Linked DNA regions of Homo sapiens: region 2 is linked to region 1. The links come from fine-mapping of genetic effects on gene expression. A gene starts in region 1. The other region holds a variant in brackets. All regions are shown on one strand. Distances are from middle to middle.

What was found. PIP is the estimated chance that this variant, and not a neighbour inherited with it, causes the effect.
Region 2: its variant is fine-mapped to the expression of RUFY1 in tibial nerve (GTEx, PIP above 0.99).

The regions. Positions count from the first base shown.
Region 1 is chr5:179,546,705-179,555,031 of GRCh38, forward strand. RUFY1 (RUN and FYVE domain containing 1) reads left to right here and starts at 3,850. Exons shown (of 18, transcript NM_025158.5): 1 at 3,850-4,175. The coding sequence starts at 3,866. All of the region lies in intron 4 of LOC128966623 (a long non-coding RNA gene), which reads left to right. It overlaps LOC105377762 (a long non-coding RNA gene), which reads right to left and starts at 3,800. Exons shown (of 4, transcript XR_941315.4): 1 at 3,240-3,800. RefSeq lists a silencer at 3,775-4,484 and an enhancer at 7,730-8,230.
Region 2 is chr5:179,621,031-179,629,357 of GRCh38, forward strand. HNRNPH1 (heterogeneous nuclear ribonucleoprotein H1) reads right to left here and starts at 2,641. Exons shown (of 14, transcript NM_001257293.2): 1 at 2,565-2,641; 2 at 2,007-2,134; 3 at 212-367; 4 at 1-5. The coding sequence starts at 2,103. The region is part of intron 4 of LOC128966623 (a long non-coding RNA gene); the gene reads left to right. RefSeq lists enhancers at 2,413-2,582, 2,638-2,932, 2,682-3,467, 3,468-4,252. The variant G/A (reference allele first, on the strand shown) is at 3,243.

The DNA of each region.
Region 1 (8,327 bases):
AGCATGAGCCACCACACCTGGCCAGAGTAGCACTTTTAATTTCCAGCAAGAACTTTTCCTTTGCATTCACAACTTGGCTAACTGTGTGCAAGAGGCCAAGCTTTTGGCCCATCACGGCTTTTGACGTGCCTACCTCATTAAGCTTAATCATTTCTAGCTTTTGATATAAAGAGAGAGACATGCAACTCTTCCTTTTACCTGAACACTCAGAGGCCATTGTACGGTTATTAATTGGCCTAATTTCTTTTCCTTTTTCTTTTCTTTTTTTTGGTTGGAGATGGAGTTTCACTCTATCGCCCAGGCTGGAGTGCAGTGATGCAATCTTAGCTCACTGCAACCTCCGCCTCCCAGGTTCAAGCAATTCTCGTGCCTCAGCCTCCCCAGTAGCTGGTATTACAGGTGCCTGCCACCACACCCAGCTAATTTTGTATTTTTAGTAGAGACAGGGTTTCACCATGTTGGCCTGGAACTCCTGATCGCAAGTGATCTGCCCACCTTAGACTCCCAAAGTGCAGGGATTACAGGTTTGAGCCACGGCCTAATTGGCCTAATTTCAATATTGTGTCTCAGGGCACAGGGAGGCCCGAGGAGAGGGTAAGGGAGAAGGAAACACGTGGTTGGTGGAGCAGTAAGAACACATACAACATTTATCAATTAAGTTTACCATCTTATATGGGTGCAGTTTGTGGTGCCCCAAAACAATTAATAATAGTAACACCAAAGATCACAGATCACAAATCATATAACAGATGTAAGGGTAGTTTAAAAGTTTAGAATATTTTGAGAATTACGAAAATGTGAAACAGAGGCACAAAATAAGCACGTGCTGTTGGGTTGCCAACAGCAACTTTTTCTTTTTTTGAGACGCAGTTTTTTTTGCACTTGTCGCCCAGGCTGGAGTGCAGTGGTTCGATCTCGGCTCACTGCAACCTCTGCCTCCCAGGTTCAAGCGATTCTCCTGCCTCAGCCTCCAGAGTAGCTGGGATTATAGGCTCCCACCACCACGCCTGGCTAATTTTTGTGTTTTTAGTAGAGACGGGGTTTCGCCATGTCGGCCACGCTGGTCACGAACTCCTGATCTCAGGTGATCCACCCACCTGTGCCTCCCAGAGTGCTGGGATTACAGGCGTGAGCCACCGTGCCCGGCTGCCAAAAACTTTAATTTGTTAAAAAAGCAATAAAGCGAAGCACTATAAAATGAGATATATTTCAATATGTAAACGAGGCACAACTACCACTGAAATAACATAGACATTTGCACGTGTAATTCTGAACAAATCAATTTAGCTACGTTCCAGGAAAATTTAGGGTACACTTATGGTAGTCATTACACTGCTCACAAAGATTCCCAGTTGTGGTTTTCCCAGACAGAAATAGGTCTGAACTTCCCAACTCCCTAGAAATTAAACGTGGCCATGTGATTTGCTTTCACCAATGAAATGTGCATAAGTGACCTTTGTCATGCAGGACTGGAGCATGTAATATTTATGCAAAACTCCCAACAGGCTGGGTCCTGAGAGACTACAATGAGTTGGGCAGAGTACTCACCCCATCTACATTGACATGTAGCATGATGAGAAACCAGCTTTTAGGTTAAGCCATTGAGATTTGGGGGTTGTTACTGAAGAATAACCTTGCCTGATAAATGTTGAAACTGTTCCCCCAAAAAAGAGTTAATGTTTTTATACAAAATGGAATTCGGTTCCACGCCCTGATCATTATAAACAAACTTTTCACCTACATAAATGTCCAGTAGCATTGGAAAGTCATGAAGGATTCGGGACAATGCTGTTATTCTAGACTATCTTCATCCCTGTCTATGCATCCAGTAAAGACTAGTAGGGCCGGGCTCAGTGGCTCACGCCTGTAATCTCAACACTTTGAGAGGCCGAGGCGGGGGAATCACGAGGTCGAGAGATCGAGACTATCCTGGCGAACATGGTGAAACCCCGTCTCTACTAAAAGTACAAAAATTAGCCAAGTGTGGCGCCACGCCCCTGCAGTCCCAGCTACTTGGGAGGCTGAGGCAGGAAAATCGCTTGAACCCGGTAGGCAGAGGTTACAGTGAGCCGAGATTGCGCCACTGCACTCCAGCTTGGTGACAGAGCAGGACTTGGCCTCAAAAACAAACAAACAAACAAGACCAGGCCGGGCGTGGTGGCTCACGCCTCTAATCCCAGCACTTTGGGAGGCCGAGGCTGGCGGATCACGAGGTCAGGAGATCAAGACCATCCTGGCTAACACGGTGAAACCCCGTTTCTACTAAAAATACAAAAAAAAAAAAAAATTAGCCGGGCGTGGTGGCGGGCACCTGTAGTCCCAGCTACTCGGGAGGCTGAGGCAGGAGAATGGCGTGAACCCGGGAGGTGGAGCTTGCAGTGAACCGAGATCGCGCCACTGCACTCCAGCCTGGGCGACTGAGCGAGACTCCGTACGAAAACAAACAAACAAAAAAGACTGGTAGTATGCCCTCAGTCATTACACAACTCAAACACCAACTCCACAAATTCCCAAAACACTCCTAGATGAAGTGGTATCCCTTCACTGAGAACTGGCCTTTCAGGGACCAGACATATCATGCAACCTAGTGAAGTGGGCTGGACCAAGACAGGTCCAGGGAGCAGCTGGGCGTCTAAAGGGGCAGCACAGTTTATTCCCAACAGTTTGTTGCCATCTGGGAATATGCCATGAGTTACCAAATATTCCAGTGATTCCAGAGAAAGCTAAAATCCAGATTCTTATGTGAAATCTTTTGATTTCTAAATATTGGCAACAAGTTTTAAGATTTGTAAACATTCTGGGAATCAAAACAGCTCTGCTGGTTTGGTGTGGCTCATGTTGCCTCACTTTGCAAAGTGTTAAGTGCTAGTAAATTTTAGTGTTTTTTCTGAGACAGGGTCTCACTTTGTCGCCCAGCCTGGAGTGCAGTGGCCATGATCTCCGCTCACTGTGGGATCGACCTCCCGGGCTCAAGCGATCCTCCCACTCTCAGCCCCCCAAGGAGCTAGGAGTAGAGCTGTCCCGCCACGACATCTGGCTGGTTTTTTGTTGTTGTTGTTGTTGTTGTTTTGGTATTTTAGTAGAGACGGGGTTTCGTCCTACTAAAGGCCCGCCTGGGCCTTCCGAAGTGCTGGGATTACAGGCGTGAGCCACCGCGCCCGGCCAAAATTTTCCTTTGTACTTACTCAAATTCCTTTCTTTTCCAAGTGAAGAAACAGACTGAGTGTATAGTGACTTACCCAGGCCACACAGTTGGATACCAGAGATAGTAGTCACAATCGCTAACATCTGCCATGTGGTCCTTACTGCAAATCTTATTTAATAATGAGGTCGGTTTTTGTTATCCCACTTAACTAATCAATAGGAGAAGCCACCTCTGATTTCCAGTCCACTATCGTGCACTCTTTCTTGCCAAGCCGTCATAGTCATTAGATTAAAAAAAAAAAAAAATTCCTGCTTTCCTGCCTCGCCTGTGCGTTTCCTTAGTCGCCCTTTCGGGGCTTGTTCTAATGAGTGCTACAGAAAAATGACGAAGTGGAAAATATAGACCATGAAATGAAAATTTAAAAGAGGAAATGGTGTCACAAAGACAACGACGGCCAGGGAACCCCGTGAAGCGCCGGGCAGGGTGCACAACTGTCCTCGGAGAAAGTTCAAGAGGAACTTCCCCGCGAACAGGTCCTGCCGGCGGCCGGGAATACGCACACTTTTTATGTTATGACTTGGACTTTCCCGAACCTTTCGAAACAGAGGGAAGGCGAGGCGGTGAAGAGGGAGAAAAATCTCCCCCACCTAAGGCAAAGGCGATGCCCGCCCGCCCCCACCCCGCGCCCGCCCGCCCGCTGGGTCACATGACACGGCCAAGATGGCCGACCGGGAAGGCGGCTGCGCTGCTGGGCGGGGGCGGGAGCTGGAGCCGGAGCTGGAGCCGGGGCCGGGGCCCGGGTCAGCGCTTGAGCCGGGAGAAGAGTTTGAGATCGTGGACCGAAGCCAGCTGCCCGGCCCAGGCGACCTGCGGAGCGCAACGAGGCCGCGGGCGGCCGAGGGCTGGTCGGCGCCCATCCTGACCCTGGCACGCAGGGCCACCGGGAACCTGTCGGCGAGCTGCGGGAGCGCGCTGCGCGCGGCCGCGGGGCTGGGCGGCGGGGACAGCGGGGACGGCACGGCGCGCGCAGGTAGGCTCGGGCCGGGTCTGTCCCGCGGCGGACTCGCGTGTCCCCGCTGGCCGCCGGCGCGGGCGCGGTGGGGGCCGGGCTGGGAGGGCACTGGCCGTTCCGGGAGGTTACGCGAGCTGTTGGCGGGCGGGCGGCGCCTGGCTGCGCCTGGGTCTTTACTCCGGCGGCCCAGCCGAGACCGCCCCCCGCAGCCCCGCGTGCCTGAGCGCGCTCCCGCACCCGCGCCTCTATGCTCTCCCACTAACTAGGTGAAGGACGTGTGCGCGTCCGGGCTTCGGAACTCTGTAGTAACTCCACACACGAAACGGAGCCAGCACTGTTCTGCTTTTCAGCCGTTCAGTGCGGGAGTGGAGCGCCGGCGGGTGTTGGGAGGGCGTGGGCCCTGCGCGCAGCGGACCAGCGGCGCCTCCGCTCACCTCTGCCTGTGAGATGGGGATTTTAAAGTCACCCGATGATCTCTTAAAGACCTTTTCAGCCCTTGTAATGAACAGAGTGCCAGCATATCAGTGATAGTAAGAGTTAAGTAACTTAGCCCTCTAACGCCAGACATCCAGAGCTGTGCTATCCAATACAACAGCACGCATATGTTTTTGTGTGTGTGTTTTTGTTTTTATTTATTTTTATTTTTTTGAGACCGGGTCTTGCTCTGTCGCCCAGGCTGGAGTGCAGTGGTGCGATCTCGGCTCACTGCACCCTCTGCCTCCCGGGTTCAAGCGATCCTCCCTCCCGCCTCAGCCTCCCGAGTAGCTGGGATTACAGGTGCCCACCACCACGCTCGGCTAAGTTCCCCGCCCCCACCCCCCTCCCATATTTTTAGTAGAAACGGGGTTTCACCATCTTGGCCAGGCTGGTCTTGAACTCCTGACCTTGTGATACACCTGCCTCGGCCTCGTAAAGTACTGGGACTACAGGCTTGAGCCACCGCGCCCGGCCGGATTCCTCAATTTCTAACTGAATCAATTGAAATTCAGTACTTTTAAATTGAATTAAAAATTGAGTTCCTCGGCCGGGAGCGGTGGCTCACGCCTGTAATCCCAGCACTTTGGGAGGCCGAAGCGGGTGGATCACGAGGTCAAGAGATCGAGACCATCCTGGCCAACATGGTGAAACCCCGTCTCTACTAAAAATACAAAAAATTAGCTGGGTGTGTTGGCATGCACCTGTAGTCCCAGCTACTCAGGAGGCTGAGGCAGGAGAATCGCTTGAACCTGGGAGGCAGAGGTTGCAGTGAGCCGAGATCGCGCCACTGCACTCCAGCCTGGGTGACAGAGCGAGACTCTGTCTCAAAAAAAAAAAAAAAAAAAAAAACTTGTTCCTCGATTACAGCGGCCACATTTTAAATGCTCAGTAGCCTGTGTGTGGCCAGTGGCTACTGTATGAGATAGCACATAATAGAACATTGCCAACTTCATAGAAAATGCTGGGACAGAGCTGAGGAAAGGTTGTGGTGCCTTCCAAGGAGCATCATAGCACACACTCGAGGCTTCCTGATTCCTCCCCATCCACTGGTACCTTTGCTGTAGATGCACTGACCCCAGGTAGTGAATTGTGAGATTTTCAGTGGTCAAGAATAATTACTGAGTAAAGTTGAAAGGCTGACTCGTTTTGAGATCCTGGCAGTGGAAAATAGCATTAGAGGATGATGAGAGCCTGGGCAGGCCGGGAATCTACTGCCCTCTAGCTTGACACCTTTTCCCGAGACTTTTCCACACATCAGTGGATGCTGAGTTGCATACTCATTGACAGTCAGTACTGAAAGTCAAGGCATGGCGTCTCCTGGAGGCCTCTTAGATATTTCGTGGCAGGAGTAAGCAAATAATAAAAGTTCTTCCCTGCTAGAATTTCTTTCCTTTAATGCAGAATCAAGGAAAAAATTAAAAAGATAAAATGAAATGTGTCAGTACCTGGCACAGAATAATAAGTGTTTGCTGAACAAATGCATATTTGAAAAATACCTGTGTTCCATCTATGGAAGTGATAGAAACAATAGCCAACACTTATATTGTCCTTCAAAGGTGCCAGGCATTAGTCTTAAACCTGTACAAGTATTCATTCATTCCTCACAACAACCCTATGTGATAGCAGGACTAGCTTCATGGGTGGACAGTCAATGCAGGCTTTGATCACTCTGGTGGAAAGGGCCAGGCACTCAGAAGTATCCCATGCTTGAAATTCTTAATTTTATCTTTGAATTTGTGTTTTTTAAGTGAAGTCCAATGGGACAGGTTCTCAGTTGCCCTGGCCCACTCGAGCTGCCCTGGGGCTTCTCCCTACCCTCCCTGATCCCACTCTTGCCCAGGCAGCGTTGGGATTGCACCCTCCGAATCTCAGGGCAGGGTGGCTGGTACCACAGCACATTAGGCAGGCAAGTGGGCAGGGGCCTCTCACCTGTCCCATCCCTGCAGGGAAGTTGCAATCCATTAGGGCTGTAGTAAGGGGGAGTCTGACTTCTGTGCTCTGCTCCAGGCCGGGAATTTTGCACTGGGCCTTGTAAATCATGTAGATGGCACAGGGTGATGAGTACCATTATTATCCCTATTTTATAAAGAGAGTATTAAAGAGAAGTAACTTCACCAACTGCAAAATGTCTATATATATATCCCATATGGATTTAAAAAACTAGGCCGGGCATGGTGGCTCACACCTGTAATCCCAGCATTTTGGGAGGCCGAGGCAGGCAGATCACCTGAGGTCAGGAGTTCGAGACCAACCTGGCCAACATGGTGAAACCCTATCTCTACTAAAAAAAAAAGTACAAAAATTAGCCGGGCTTGGTGGTACGCACCTGTAATCCCAGCTACTCAGGAGGCTGAGGCAGGAGAATTGCTTGAACATAAGAGGCGGAGTTTGCAGTGAGCCGAGACCATTCCACTGCAGTCCAGCCTGGGCAACAGAACGAGACTATCTCAAAAAATAATAATTAACTCAATTTAAGGAAAGTATTAATAACTACCACTCAATCTAGCAAAATGGTGACCATGGCTTACAAAGAGATGAAATTTGGGGAACTGCTGGGTAGAGCCATGAGGCTGGTCCCAAAGGTCACCGGGATTTGAAGCCATCAGGTAGGACAGGAGCAGAGGTGGGAAAGGAAATGGGCCAAGGGCGGCTCGCTCTGCAGCGACACAAGAAAAACAGGATGGGAGAAAGACAGTGACACCACTTCAGCCAGGGCCAGGCCCAAGGCTGACTCATTCTCTTTCCCCACTGATCTGCCTACACAAGCAATGAGGACAGGCAGGACTTTCAGAGGGAGCAGTTTAGGAGCAGAGATTGAATGTGAGCAGCACTCTTGCTGGATGATATTTTTTCAATGGTAGAAGCTAAAGGAAATGCTGCGGAATATTTTGAATACTTGTTTTAAAATGTTGTCCCGGTCGGGTGCAGTGGCTCATGCCTGTAATCCCAGCACTTTGGAAGACCGAGGTGGGTGAATCACCTGATGTTGGGAGTTTGAGACCAGCCTGACCAACATGGAGAAACCCCGTCTCTACTAAAAATACAAAATTAGCCAGGCATGGTGGCGTAGGCGTGTAATCCCAGCTATTCAGGAGGCTGAGGCAGGAGAATCTCTTGAACCTGGGGGGTGGAGGTTGCTGTGAGCCAAGATCGCCGCATTGCACTTCAGCTAGGGCAACAAGAGCAAAACTTTGTCTCAAAAAAAAAAAGAAAAGAAAAGTTTTCCCATGTGGGGTCTGGTATGTGATTGTATTGTCCATAGGTGTCCTGTTTGGTTTTGGGGGATTTTTTTTTAAGGTAATAAGCGAACATGATTTTTAAAAATCAAACCATACAAAAGAACATTCGGACAGGCATGGTGGCTCATGCCTGTAATCCCAGCACTTTGGGAGGCCGAGGCGGGCGGATCATTTGAGGTCAGGAGTTTGAGACCAGCCTGGCCAACATGGTGAAACCCCGTCTCCACTAAAAGTACAAAAATTAGATGGGCGTGGTGGCGCACGCCTGTAATCCCAGCTGCTCGGGAGGCTGAGGCAGGAAAATTGCTTGAAACCAGGAGGCAGAAGTTGCAGTGAGCCAAGATCACGCCACTGCACTCCAGCCTGGGTGACGAGCAAAATTCTGTCTCAAAAAAAAAAAAGGACAAATACTAAATCCTCCTTCCCAGAAATTTTCCCCAGTACTATTGTATCT
Region 2 (8,327 bases), 74 kb after region 1:
GAATACTGAAAGAGGTGCTTAGAATTAGTCACTTTTGGAAAATTAGATAACAAAGTTCAGACTTCCTGGGTCTTTAGATAAGCTAGGAAGAGCTGCCACAAACTCCCTTAGATGACCATTTCCATGCAGTCAAATACCTAAAATTCAGAAGGGGTGAGACCTCTATTGTTTAATGCTTTATTTACTGTAACTAGGGCAATGTAAATCAAACCTTCAACATATCTGTGTCCCATAGTTTCTCTGTCTTTTTTCAGGGCCAATTTGACTTCATCTTCTGATTCAAGTTCAACAAAAGCCTCGCCACTTGGTCTGCCTTCTCTGGTGTAGATGAAACGAATACCTTGAGCCCCATTTTGAATTTTGCAGTCTGGAAAGAAAACAACCGTTAATACAGAATTTAAAACCTAAAACCACCTCTGGGTGACACAGATGAAATGTCTATTCCATGTCCCCACTACAAATTACATAACTTGTGAAGCCTATATATACTGACCACGATATTACCAACTCCTAAAACTCCAATTAAAAAAAAACAAACTCATTCCTAAGGTGATATATTTCCAACCCATCAACAACATACAATATTCAAAGCAGTTTCAGAATGAATTTATCTCTTTAGTCCTTGCTACTCATGTCTACATCACACATCTTTTATCAATTTCTCAGAAGATTATCAAGCCTGGACTGTGTGACTTTACGGCAAACATACTTCGTTGCGAGCTGTTTTGGTCTGGGGCATTTATCCGTTTTACCTTACCAGTAGCCACATTACGGTTTCTCATTCAAATTCAAATTACAAGCCCAATACTCACCTGAAAGGGGATCAGTGTTACCAAGCTAAAATGCTCCAAGTTGCACAGCTGAAGCCAAACCCAGTGTTGCCCCCTGCAAGGCGGCTTCCAGCGTACTTGGTTCTTGTTTTACAGGTCGCTTTCCGTTACCAACGCTAAATTCAGATAGTAAGTCAATACTACAAACGTCTTGCCAAAAGCTGTTAATTTCATCCAAATAGAATTTTAATCAGTCTAATTTCTTTTTCCCAGTCTAATAATAGGAACAAGGACATTCTGATAGAAAATATTCAGGAAACCTATGTACTGCAAAAACACTTCCCTGGGCTTCAGTGTCTTCAACTGTATAGTGAGCCAGATTAAGAACTAGATAAGAAAACACTCTTCAATTATCAAATCTTGATTAGGAAAACTGAAATTAAGACGTGACATTTTAACTTTCCGAAGAATGCTCCTTTTTAAGAAAACACCAAAACTGGAAACAAGAGGTTACACTTCAAGATATTGCAAAACATTACTATTATTTGTCTAATCACTCGGCCATTTTCTCAAGATTGAGGAGGAAATCCCACCTATGCCAATTTATCCTTTCGAAAAAAGACACCCGGGCCAGGCGCGGTGGCTCACGCCTGTAATCCCAGCATTTTGGGAAACCGAGGTGGGCGGATCACTTGAGGTCAGATGTTCGAGACCAGCCTGGCCAAAATAGTGAAACCCCGTCTCTACTAAAAATACAAAAATTAGCCGGGCGTGGCGGTGCGCGCCTCTAGTCCCAGACACTCGGGAGACTGAGGCAGGAGAATCGCTTGAACCCAGGAGGCGGAGGTTGCAGTGAGCCGAGAACGCGCCACTGCACTCCAGCTTGGGTGACAGAGACTCCAACTCAAAAGAAAAAGAAAAAAAGACACCCATAAAAGAAAAGCTGGTGTTCAAAGATAGGTAAAGAAAACAAAGTCTGCCAAACCTGCCGCACTCCCCCAAGGGCCAGGAGGACGGGCGGGGCTTTCGAAATTTCCATTGCGTAACAGCGGGCCGCCGGGCGCGAGCAGCACAGCGGTGAGTGTAGTCGCCCGCGCCTCGCCAGGGGGCGCCCCGGGTCCCACCCGGCCCGGCCCGGCCCGGCCCGCCCCGCCCCGCCCCGCCCCAGCCCGGCCGCCCGCCAGCCCGCCCGCCCCGGCCTCGAACTCGAACTCCCGCGTCCTAGTTCTAACTCACCAGAAAAAAACCTCTGCACTTCATCGGCCGAGCAAGACCAGGGCAAGCCCCGGACCTTCACCACGAATCCCTCTCCACCTTCCGTGCCCAACATCATCGTCTCTTACGCGGTCCGGCGTCGAAACAAACTGCAAAGCGGGGAGGACCAGAACTGAGAGCGCCAATTAAGCTGTCCTTCGCCTCCGAGGCGCGCCCGGGCCCGCACCGCCCCCCCACGGAGCAAAAACCGGGCGGATGCACCCACCCCGGCGACTCCAACACCTCCTCGTCCGGCGACCGGACCCCCAAAGCTGTCCTGAGCAACAGCTGTCGGCGCCCCGAACCGTGGGGGCCCGGGCCGAGAGCCAGCGTAGAGGAAAGGAAATGGCGGCGGCCGCTTCCGCTCCGCCTCCTCCGACTTCTCACACAATAGAGTCGGCGCGGCCTGCAGGCCTCAGCGGCGGTGCCGAGATTCAGCGAACCACTCGCGGCTCTCGACGGCAGCCTGCAGCTCGCCAAGGTCCCCGTGGCCCTCCCAGAGATATGGGGACAAACAATCCTCGCAAAAACGGTACCCACCGTGGTCGCTGAACTGCAAGCGAGGACCCACCGCGACTCACCTAGACACGCGACTTCTGCGTGGCTAAGACGAAATGGCCAGCGGGCGCCTGCGCAACCTAAATAAGGTCCCTTGTGCGAGTTCTGCGCACGCGCAGCCAGCTGCCCGCACCGCCCCGTTGCGTCACAAAGAGCTCTGGCGCATGCGTAATTTCAAGAGCCAGCCCACCTCCCGCCGGCGGATTATTACACGCTTGGGTTTTGGGCTCAGCACCCCCACCCATAAACCCGCCGGGCTTTTTGTTGCGCCTGCGCCTTCCCGCGAATATTGAACTTCGGAGTCCTAGCGGTTTATAATTATTTCATGCGCATGCGTCTTCCTTGAAACCGTTCTCTAGCCTTACCCGCCAGCGTGGGGGAGGGGAATGGCGGCCGCCTGTTCCCTATGGGACTGTATAGGAGTCCCGAGCTCTGGGTTGTGATGAGGTGGGCGTCTTTCTACCCCTTGCCCCCAGGCTCTTACCGGCGCGCTCCTGGCCGACCTGAAAGGAGGGGCGCGGCCTTCAGGCGTTCCCACTCCCCGCGCCGCCTGTCTTCCCTTTATCCCCAAACCGGCCGAAGCTGGTCAGCTGCAGATTGTCGAACGTCCTGGGAGCTGCGGGGCTGCGGACGTCCCGCGCCCGAAGCCACCCGTATGGT[G/A]CCTGGGGCACGTCCCAGCCCTGTGTGCCTCCACTTCCCCTTACCTGCCGTCGTCGGGCCTAGGGCCCCGGTCGGCGCGAGGTTTCCGTGCCTGTGGCTCGCGCCTGTACCCAGCTTTTGCCTAACGAATTCGCACCCTGTGTACCCCTTGACCCGCCTAACGGTCGGCAGGCCTTGACTGCCCTGGGGCCCTGGCACGAGGAGGGATCGCGAGCGCGGGCTCCACGGGTGCGCGCCGGCCTCTGCGCTCGGTAGGTTACCGCTGCATCTCCCAGAGCAGAATTGGTAAGAGTGCGTCCATTCACCAGGCGTAGACGCTGCATTCGAGGAGGCCCCCGGGTCACCCCATGTGCACACATGCTGCGAGATGACTAATGTTCGTGGTTTCTAGCAGCACTGCCCAAAACCTAAGATGCCGTAGCCTCCCAGGCCTCCCCATGTCTGATTTGGCTGCCTTCCTCACCCCAGCTTTAGTGGACACAGACAATACACAAATTAACAATAAGGTAGTGCTGGACCCTGCCGCAGAGCTACCTTAGCTAGTGCAAGCCTGAGTGCCACCCTGGGAAGATGCGGACAAAGCATGTTTCCAACCCCAGTGCCACAGAGTCCGAATCCAGTTTTGACAGGTTTGAGAAAAAGTAGAGAGGACATCAAAAGAAAGACAGGAGCCCAGAGCTAAGCAGGGCCTGATCTTCAAAGGCCACTTAGGCCTTGGCAAGGGTGTTATCTCCGAGAGAAGGCTTTGGCAGGTGATCAGCAGGGGAGCCGTAAACCCTGTGTAAAGGAAAACTCTTGCTGGATGTGAGGGGGATGCAGATGGAGCAGGCAGGGTGAATGACGGTACATACCAGGCCCTCTACTACAAACTGAACTAGAAGCACACACCTGTGGTACCATTTCAGAAGGCACTTTGGCTGAGGTAATCAAGAAGAGAGTCCGGCCAGGTGCGGTGGCTCACTCGTGTAATACCAGCATTTTGGGAGGCCGAGGCAGGCAGATCACTTGAGATCAGGAGTTTCAGACCAGCTTGGCCAACATGGTGAAACCCCATCTCTACTAAAGATACAAAAATTATCTATGCATGCACACGCCTGTAATCCCAGCTACTCTGGAGGCTGAGGCAGGAGAATCACCTGAACCCAGGAGGCAGAGGAAGCAGTGAGCTGAGATCACACCACTGCCCTCCAGCCTGGGCTACAAAGACTCCCTCTCAAAAAAAAAAAAAAAAAAAAATTAGCCAGGCATGGTGATGCATGCCTGTAATCCCAACCACTTGGCAAGACTGAGGCAGGAGAATCACTTAAACCCAGGAGGCAGCAGTTGCAGTCAGCTGAGATCACGCCATTGCACTCCAGCCTGGGCAATAAGAGCAAAACTCCGTCTCAAAAAAAAAAAAAAAAAGAATAGTAGTAAGGTAGAATACATTTCATACACTTATAGCCAATTCTCTTATATATAAATTGTCCAACTTATATTAAAACAAGGTTTTTAAATTTTTATTTTTTATTTGTTTGTTTGAGACACAGCCCGTCACCCAGGCTGGAGTGCAGTGGTGCAAACATGGCTCACCACAGCCTCTACCTTCTGGGCTCAAACAATCCTCCTGCCTCAGCCTCCTGAGTAGGTAGGACCACAGGCATGTGCCACCTTGCTCAGATTATTTATTTATTTATTTATTTATTTATTTATTTTTTGTAGCAATGGGGTCTCATTTTGTTGCCCAGGCTGGTCTTGAATTCTTGGGCTCAAGGAATCATTCCACCTCAGCCTCGCAGAGAAAGTGCTGGGATTACAGGTGTGAGCCACCATGGCTGGCAATGAAAGGTTTTTTTGTTTGGTTTTGTTTTTGAGACAGTCTAACTCTGTCACCCAGGCTGGAGTACAGTGGTGCAATCTTGGCTCACTGCAACCTCTGCCTCCTAGGTTCAAGCAATTCTCATGCCTTAGCCTCCCAAGTAGAGGGATTACAGGTGTGTGCCACCACACCTGGCTACTTTTTTTTAAGTTTTAGTTGAGATGGGGTTTTGCCATGTTGGCCAGGCTGGTCTGGAACTCCTGACCTCAAGTGATCTGCCTGCCTCGGCCTCCCAAAGTACTGAGATTACAAGCATGAGCCACCATGCTCGGCCAAAGGTTTTTTTAAATAAAAAGTTAATCATCAGCCCACGCGTGGGGCTCATGCCTGTAATCCCAGCACTTTGGGAGGCCGAGGCAGGTGGATCAAGAGTTCAGGAGTTAGAGACCAGCCTGACCAACATGGTGAAACCCCGTCTCTACTAAAAATACAAAAAGTAGCCGGGCATGGTGTCGCGTGCCTGTAATCCCAGCTACTCAGGAGGCTGAGGCAGGAGAATCACTTGAACCTGGGAGGTGGAGGTTGCAGTGAGCAGAGATTGCACCACTGCACTCCTGCCTGGGCAACAGAGCAGGACTCTGTCTTTAAAAAAAAAAAAAAAAATTCATCATCTTGCCTCAGTGGTCTTTATGTCTTGGTATACTTCTTTTTTTTTTTTTTTTTGAGACGGAGTCTCGCTCTGTCGCCCAGGCTGGAGTACAATGGCGCGATCTCCGCTCACTGCAAGCTCCGCCTCCCAGGTTCACACCATTCTCCTGCCTCAGCCTCCCGAGTAGAGTAGCTGGGACGACAGGCGCCCGCCACCACGCCCAGCTAATTTTCTTGTATTTTTACTAGAGACGGGGTTTCACCGTGTTAGCCAGGATGGTCTCGATCTCCTAACCTCATGATCCGCCCACCTCGGGCTCCCAAAGTGCTGGGATTATAGGTGTGAGCCACTGCGCCCGGCTAATGTCTTCGTATACTTCTTACAGTTTACAGAGCTCTTTATTAAGGCTGTTAGCCCTTAGGATAGTTGCCCCAGACATTCTTCTCAGTTTGCTTACCTTTTAATTATTTTTGTGGTTTTGTGGTGGTATTTTTTGTTTGTTTTACAGACAATGTCTTGTTCCGTGCAGTGACACAATCATAACTCACTGCAGCCTTGAACTCCTGGGCTCAAGCCATCCTCCAAGCTCAGCCTCCTGAGTAGCTGGGACTAAAGGCACTTTCAACCAGGCCCGACTAATTTTTTTTTTTTTTGTAGTGATGGGGGTCTCACTATGTTGCCCAGGCTAGTCTTGAATTCCTGGCGTCAAGCAATTCTCCCACCTTGGCCTCTCAAAGCCCTGGGATTATTCTACATGTGAGCCATGATGCTCGGCCCTGATTTATGCCTTTTTTTTTTTTAAGACAGGGTCTCACTTCGTCACTCAGGTTGGAGTGCAGGTATGTGATCTCGGCTCACTGCAACCTCCACCTCCCGGGTTCAAGCAATTCTTGTGCCTCAATCTCCCAAATTGCTGGGATATGCCAGGTGCAATGGCTCACACTTGTAATCCCAGCACTTTGGGAGGCTGAGGTGGGTGGATAACTTGATGTCAGGAGTTTCAGACATGTTGGCCAACATGGTGAAACCCTGTCTCTACCAAAAATACAAAAATTAGCCGGGCATGGTGGTGGGCGCCTGTAATCCCAGCTACTTGGGAGGCTGAGGCAGGAGAATCACTTGAACCCAGGATGTGGAGGTTGCAGTGAGCAGAGATCCTGCCACTGTACTCCAGCCTGGGCAACAGAGGGAGATTCCATTGCAAAAAAAAAAAAAGGAAAAAAATACCAAATAGCTGTGATTACAGGCATGCACCATCACACCCGGCTAATTTTTGTATTTTTAGTAGAGATGGGGTTTCACCATGTTGGCCAGGTTGATCTGGAACTCCGAACCTCAAGTGATCCATCCACCTTAGCCTCCCAAAGTGCTGTGATTACAGGTGTGAGCCACTGCACCCGGCCTATGATTGCTTTTTAATATTTGGACATATAGAAGTTTTAAATTTCTTGATGTCAAAGCCATGGATATGTTCCTTTGAGGTTTGTCTTTAAGTTTAGAAAGCCCTTTCCCATCCAGAGATTGAGCACATATTTGTTATCTTTAGTATCATTTGTAAGACACATTTTGTACAGCTTAGCCTCAATAAGATAGGAATGTGTTTTATTTATTTTCTTCTGCTTTTTTAAAAATTTGTATTTATTTATTTATTTTAGATGGAGTCTTGCTCTGTCACCCAGGCTGGAATGCAATGGCATGATCTCGGCTTACTGCAACCTCCACCTCCCAGATTCAAGCGATTCTCCTACCTCAGCCTCCAGAGTAGCTGGGTTTACAGGTGCCTGCCACCACACCCAGCTAATTTTTGTGTTTTTAGTAGAGACCGGGTTTTGCCATGTTGACCTCAGGTGATCCACCCACCTCAGCCTCCCAAATTGCTGGGATTACACGCATGAGCCACCGCACCTGGCCAGGAATGTGTTTTAAAACCAATGATATCAGCTGGGCATGGTGGCTCACCCTGTACTCCTAGCTCTCTGGGAGGCCATGGTGGGCTGATCACTTGAAGTCAAGAGTTCCAGACTAACCTGGCCAACACGGTGAAACCCCGTCTCTACTACATTATCACATCTCATCCTTTTGGCAAAGATCAAGTGTAGGAAAAAAGATAAATTAACCGGGTGTGGTGGCATACGTCTGTAATCCCAGCTACACAGGAGTGTGAGGTGGGAGGATGGCTTGAACCCCAGAGACAGAGGTTGCAGTGAGCCAAGATCACACCACTGCACTCCAGCCTAGGTGACAGAGCGAGACTGTGCCTCAAAGAAAAGAAAATAAATGCAATCATAAATAACCCGGCTGGGCGCGGCGGCTCACGCCTGTAATCCCAGCACTTTGGGAGGCCGAGGTGGGCAGATCACAAGGTCAGCAGATCGAGACCATCCTGGATAACACAGTGAAACCCCGTCTCTACTAAAAATACAAAAAATTAGCCGGGCGTGGTGGCGGGCGCCTGTAGTCCCAGCTACACGGGAGGCTGAGGCAGGAGAATGGCTCGAACCCGGGAGGCGGAGCTTGCAGTGAGCCGAGATCGCGCCATTGCACTCCAGCCTGGGTGACAGAGCGAGACTCCGTCTCAAAAAAAAAAAAAGTAATAATAATGATGATATGTCGCCCAGGCTGGAGTGCAGTGGCATGA